Linked DNA regions of Homo sapiens. The protein of the gene in region 1 interacts with the protein of each later gene in a biochemical or structural test. Each region holds a gene or a part of one and is shown on either strand. Other genes may lie near its edges.

Region 1 (3,500 bases):
ACTCCATCCCCTAATGAAAGGCTTTTCACCAATAATGGAAAATACAATACACAACAATTTGTTCTGCTACTAAAAACAACAAATATCAACATTTGTATATAAATCCAATTTACAAATACTGTGGTGATACAACCTAGTGAATGTTTCCTGTAAAACGGTGGGGAAAATAAAAAGTTGGTCAAATTTAAACAAAAACTAAAGGACAACTGGAAGAAAACAGACCTGATTGTGAATTTGAATTCCTGTCAAACAATACATTAGTTAACAGCCAACATATCTGGCCACTGCAGAAATAAAAATATAAAGTAATTTATCTGATCTGCTAAAACAAATATATCATGTGTACATTTTATGCCAAAAGAATTAATGTCTTGAGAAGACTAAAAGTTCAAATAAAAAATACTATGAGAGGAATTAAATGCACCACTTCTCTAAAGGTAAAGACTGTTCTAAATGTTCAAAATATTTTTTCAAACCAGGCTCAACTAGCAAAGAAAGGGTCACAAAAAAGCCTAATCTTAAAATTCTCAAGAATTTAAAAAGCCAACATTGTGTAAGGTAAATTTATATTCAAATGATGAAATTTAGTTTAGGCCACTTAAAATGAAGTGGATGCTGTGTTAACATAACCTGTGGGCAAGAAAATCAGTATAGGCAAACAAAAACCGTCTACATTCAAGTCACATAAAAAATATCTGTATAATCTGTCAACTCCTCACAGTCATTTTTCTGGGAAAGATTTCTGTGTCCTGTAAATCTACACTGACTGAACAAACAGTGCAGGAAACGAGTCATTCTCTCACCTAAGTCCTGGTAACTCCACAATGGGGAACTGTGGAAAGCAGACAGCTAGTATTGCTGTGCAGCTTCTTTCATGGAGGTGCTAGGGTAGTGACAGTTTCTGGTTGAGCCTAGACCTCTACCACTCCAAAGAGCAAAAAGATTTTCACACAATATGCACTTCAGCTCTACACTAAGCAACCTAAAAGGCTTCAAGTGCCAAGACAGTGGCCAGGGAGTCAAGGGAGCCCATAGAATGAGGTTCAGCCAATAAAACAAAGGATAATGAGAGAAAGCTAACTGACACCTCTATACGTAGTTAATAGTTCAAAAGATGAAAATGGTGAAAAGATTTTTTCTTTTTTTTTTTTGAGACAGGGTCTCCCTCTGTCTCCCAGGCTAGACTGCAGTGGCATAGTCTCGGCTCACTTCAGCCTTGACCTCCCAGGCTCCAGTGATCCTTCCACTTCAGCCTCCTGAGTAGCTGGAACTACAGGTTCATACCACTATGCCTGGCTAGTTTTTGTATTTTTTGTAGAGATGTTGTCTCTATGTTGCCCAGGCTGGTCTCGAACTCCTGGCCTCAAGTGATCCTCCCGTGTCTGCCTCCCAGAATGAGCCACTGTGCCTAGCCAAGACTTTTCTAATATTTCACAGATTAAGAGACTCAAATCACCATCTCCCAAAGTAATTATAACTGGTGGTATCCACTGTTCAACAGAGATTTAAGTACTTTAAGCCCCTAAAAGGAAAAAAAAAATTATTCACTGCTATCTATTTATTGATAATCTTTAACTTAGATTCTAAAACCTGGGATTTAATAATCAAATCCCAGTACTTTGGGAGGCTGAGGCCAGCAACTCAACGCCTGAGCTCAGGGGTTCGGGACCAGCCTGGGCAACATAGCGAAACCCTGTCTCTACTAAAAATACAAAAATTAGCTGGGCGTGGTGGCGCACGCCTATAATACCAGCTGAGGCAGGACAATCGCTTAAACCTAGGAGGTGGAGGCTGCAGTGAGCTGAGGTTGCACCACTGCACTCCAGCCTGGGCAACAGAGTAAGACTCTGTCTGGAAGAAAACAAAATAAAACAAAACCCAACAACAATCAATCTATAAATAAATTTCCTTATCTGTAAAGCTAAAAGAATACTACTTACAGGATTATTGAGTTTCAAATGAGACAATACATGATTTGGCGTAAGAAAGGAATGTGGAAACCTAAACCCTGAAAGGGTAATATTGAACTTTACCAGTACCCCAAGATCTCTACCATCACCCTATTCGATAAACATAACTAAGTCCACCATGTTAAAACTATGGATCCTGGGCCGCGCGGTGGCTCATGCCTGTAATCCCTGCACTTTGGGAGGCCGAGGCAGGTAGATCACCTGAAGTCAGGAGTTCAAGACCAGCCTGGCCAACATTATGAAACCTCATCTCCACTAAAAACACAAAAAATTAGCTGGGCGTGGTGGCGTGTGCCGGTAATCCAGCTACTCAGGAGGCTGAGGCAGGAGAATCGCTTGAACCCAGGAGGCGCAGGCTGCAGTGAGCCAAGATTGCACCACTGCACTCCAGCCTGGGCAACAAGGGCAAAACTCCGTCTTAAAAAAAACCAAAACAAACAAAAAAGACTATGGATCCTGATTCTTAAGCAAAATTTTAAAGATCCCATCTTCTATTCAACAAATATAGTTGATGGAATAGCACCCAAATAAATCAACCAAACTTAGTTTCACAAAAACTTAAGCTTCATTCTTCCAAGACCAAGAGCAACAGCTAAAAATGTATGCACCTGCTCCTCTCCATCTTATTTGTAAATACATTCGTTTTCTAGGCTTCAGTGGTTACCAACCCCCACATTACAACAAAAAGGAAAAAGTATAGTCAAATCCTGTAAAATAAATCCCTACTAAATTTCAACTTTGTGTCTGAAAATTGTAAAGTGTTCCTTAATTACTGCATAAGGAAATACTACCTTTATAGGACAAAATGAATAAAAAGTTAATTCTAAAGAAAAATAAATCCAATTTACCTTGTTTGAAACTTTTTTCAAGTCAACTATATATGGGGCTCTCATACTGTTTTTTAAAGCTATACACAAAAGTATTCAAACATTTACTCTTCCTAGTGCTACAAAGTTCAATGATGTTGTAAATGGTTTCTGCCTATAAATTTGGTTCGTTCAAATTAAATTTTACTTGACTGACTCACAGAGGGAGTGGCCTGACTTTTGCTGTTCTGAGTCAGAAAATACCCCGTTCAGCAGTTCAAAACTATTTTTCATCTATAAAGGTGTTCTAAAATGCCAGCCTTTTCCAGCTACAAAATCTGTTGCCTTAGTAGAAAGATCTTAGTGGTAATAATACTTTGAATCTGTAGTTCAATTTATAATTAACAAAGTGCTTTCACGTGTATTTTCTCACTTCTTCTGATTTAAGTGTCCCACACAGCTCAACAGAGAAACTTTGATACAGTGGTAAGTTCTAGTTCACTCTTGGCCCCAATAAATATACTCTCCTCTTTTTCCAAAAAATAAAAAACATAAGACGCTGCTGCATTTCTTTAATCAGACTTCCCTCACGCAGACATATCCCAGGTGCCTCATAAAAACTGTCTCAAAGCACACACCCCGGGGCCCCAAGAGAGTTTCAAGGCATAATCTCCTCCCACATAAAAGCCTAGCTTAGGCCCCAAAGAGCCTCCAGTCAGCATCT
Region 2 (3,500 bases), on another chromosome or scaffold:
CTAAATGTGTAGCTGCCCCTAATCCTTCCACACCTCCTACACATTTTAATAGCCCCTGACATTGTGAGTCCTACTTTTCCAATACAGGCACCAGACACACTTCATGTCCCAACCTCCCTCGCGATTAGGGACTCCCCACCTGGCCCTCAGGAGTCGGATCGGCAGCTACTGAGTGGGATCCGGGAAGCACACGTGGGCTTCGTGGGCGCAGGGCGGGGGCAGAGCACATGCTCTTTGCGGGGCAGGTGGGGCAGGGGTGGGCTGGCTCGGGGCAAAGTGGGCGCTGAGCTTGGGGCCAGTTTTCTGGGGATCACTCCTGAACTTCAGCCTAAAACCTGTTCTCCATCTATTCTGAGGGAACCATGAGCTTTCAGTCTCTCTTAGTAAAAGCTGTTTCCTGCTGAAACTGAGTCAGAGCAGGATCTGTTCACTGCAACTAACACCTAAGTGAGAGAATTCCCTCTTGCCTCATCCACAATGATGAGGGGTCAGAAAAACATCTTTCCCCTCACAGTTTCTGTATGCTTTGAATCAAAAACGTTTTCTCCCTCACAGTTTCTGTACATTTTGTTTCCAGCTTTAAATCAATCTTTACACCTTCCAATAAAGGCCCTTTTGGGTCTTGAAGGAGATGAACTTTATTGCTGTTTATCCACATGGGAACATCTCACTTAAGACCAAATGGGCTTCAACCATGCCAAGGGTTAATTTAGAATCTGCTGGTGGAAGAGGAAAGTGAGGCAGCAGCTTCTCCCTCCTTTGCCTTCACTTTGTTATCCCCAGTTGCCTCCTCCTGTCTCTGTCCTCATTTCTCCTGGGCTTGTGGGCTGTGCTCTGCTGGGAACACTGAAAGTATCTTCAAACCTAGAGTGGTATTACAGCTCGGACTTCAAGGGAAAACAAACGGAAAAGGAAGTATTATTGTTAAAAGTAATTTCAGTCCTTTCCTTCGTGGAGGCCAAACAAGCTTGTTGGTATAGATGCACATACATTGATCACCTCCTGCAGCCACCATTGAAATGACTCATTCACTTCTTTCCTTTTACTCTTAAGTGAGAGTTGGCAGTCGATCAGTCCAGAAGCTTGTGAAATCCTTTCCTCCCACACTCTCCCTCCACGCTCCTTGGAGACCAGCACCTCCAGACAGACCAGAAGGAGCCTCAAGTTCCCACCTTCCCTTCTAGTGCCATCTTCAGTGTCAGCGACTTCCATCTGGCAAGGAAGCTTAAGACGAGATGGAAATGCCGGCGTCCCCCAGATGTTGACTGACAGCCACTTTATTCCAGCAGAATCTAAAATCAGCCTAGTCTATATATCAAGAGGAAAGAAAAAAAAAAAAAAAGAAGGACAGGAAGAGAATGGACAGAGGGTCTGCTGAATAGCTCTTTGCTGGCTATAAATACCAGCCGTGGGACTGGACAGTATTGTGCTTCCTATGGGCAGTCTCCATGTGTGGTTGTGTTCCCCTTTGTGGCACCCGATGAGCAAAAGGACCAACTCAGGCTGGTCCCATGAGGCAGGAGCACCTTGTCAGGTGGGCACGAGAATCTACCCACAGGAAGACGGCAAAGGCTATCTCTCCATCTGGGAACCACCAGGATGAGGAGGCAGCTCTTGGCCATGCTGGCCCCTGCCCACAGTCGCTGGGGTGGGCGTGTGGAGCTGCAGCCTCCCATCTGTGAATCCTCTGAAGAGGAACAAAATGGCTCCCAACCACAATTTGGGGACCACCTGCTGCTAAGGCAGGACAGATAAAAATAGAAAACCTGAGTCAAGATTATATTCTGTTGAAGACAGAATGACAACAGCAATGATAACAAGCTTCCCTGCAAGGGTGCCCGGCACACAGCAGGCACTCACTGAAATGTCTGCAGAGTGATGAGACAGAGGATGAGAACAATGAACACAAAGATCACACTGCCAGATGAGTGCAAGGAAAGAAAAATACTGTAAAGCACCATCATTTGTGCCAGTGACCACGAAACGAGAGCTGGGCTTCAGCCCACACCATGCAAACAGCAAGCCACCCACACATGCTCAAGGGACACCAGCGTCCCTCCTGGCCACTGCAACAGGACGCAGCTGAGAGCCAGTCGGCGTGATCCACAATAAGAATATGCAAACTCAGTCAAGGAAGGAGTCAAAACTGTCAAAAAGGTTCAGCTGCTCGCCACCTAAGAACATCTATTTATCTTGGTTTAGTTATTAACAAAGCATGAAAAGTCTCTCCCAAGCCACAGACTACAGAATTTGAGTTACCTTAGAACAGCTTCAGATACCTGCACATGTGTACAATTCATGACAGTTAATTACTAATTCAGAAAGCAGCATGAGTCCCCCAGTGCCACAAGAAAGCTGGCCCACTTAAAAGTATCCTAGTACTAATGAATAAGTTCTGCAAATGTTTTAATGTGATGTGGAATAGATGGTTTCACCAAATAGGTCCTCAAGACAGGACCACTCTCCGGTTTTGAAGTTTACAGAAATAGAAATAAAGGACAGGATAAGTTTAGATAAATTATGGAAAGTATAACAAACTTGGAGGTTAAAAAAAAAGCAATAAAAATTCTAGAACAATCTGAAAAATTTGTAAGTAATGAAGATAACAGCAATGTTTCCATTAGTACAGTGTTTGCTGTAAGGTATTCACTCCCTCATACTACCTCTAATATTTGAAAAAGTAAAGATAAAATGGGTTGTCTTCCTGTAGCAATAAAAGTCTCACTAAATAAATAAGAATTCAGCACTTTCCACGATGTTCCAAAACAGTGGATTGGTGGAAAGCCAATTAACATCACAGTTTTATGAGGCTATTAAACGTCAAGTTACGGTGCTTCAATCTCGAGTACACTGAAATACAAAAACAAGCTCAGTTAAGAAAAATGGGCTCTGTGTTTGCTTCAAGACCGTCATGATTTCTATGAGGACAAAGAAAGAGCAGCGATGATGGCATTTTAAGTGGCGTAACATGACGAAGTGAGTACCAGGAGAGGAAAAGGGGGAAGAAGTAAGGAACAGTCTCTACCTGTGTTGAGGGGACCAGGTGTACACCGTATATTACTAACGCCAAGCAGCATGTATAAAACAATTAGTATAGAACAACCGGTATAAAACCACGTGATGTAAAAATTTGGAAGATGCTGCAAAGAGGCAGGAGAGATGGGGGATCTGCTAAGGACAGCTTTCTAGTGAAGGTTTTGTGTTTAGGTTTTGAAAGAAACAACAGACGTCACTTGGAGGAGAAGAAAGTTCAGAAGGTTTTCCAGCGGCTCTTCAAACCAGAGCTTAGAGCTGCCTGAGTCCATCTTCTCAAAAGTTCTAAATACTTTTCAGTTTTCTGTTTCAACAAGTATAGTAACCACCAAAAGTAAGGTTTTTACCTTTCTTTGGGCCTGAAACTAAAGATTACACTTAAAACGATACGGAGGCAGGTCCCTGAAAAGCAGGGCCAAGGTTCTGATTTCACGACTGGTAAAGAAAGAGATCAAACTCTCGCTTGT

The links.
Region 2: the proteins of PTP4A2 (region 1) and DUSP22 form a complex in vitro, tested with the Homo sapiens proteins (one large-scale study listed by BioGRID).

The regions. Positions count from the first base shown.
Region 1 is NC_000001.11:31,931,869-31,935,368, forward strand, and holds part of PTP4A2 (protein tyrosine phosphatase type IVA 2), read right to left. Parts: intron 1-3,500.
Region 2 is NC_000006.12:330,487-333,986, reverse strand, and holds part of DUSP22 (dual specificity protein phosphatase 22), read right to left. Parts: intron 1-3,500. UniProt on the Homo sapiens protein: Dual specificity phosphatase; can dephosphorylate both phosphotyrosine and phosphoserine or phosphothreonine residues. Activates the JNK signaling pathway.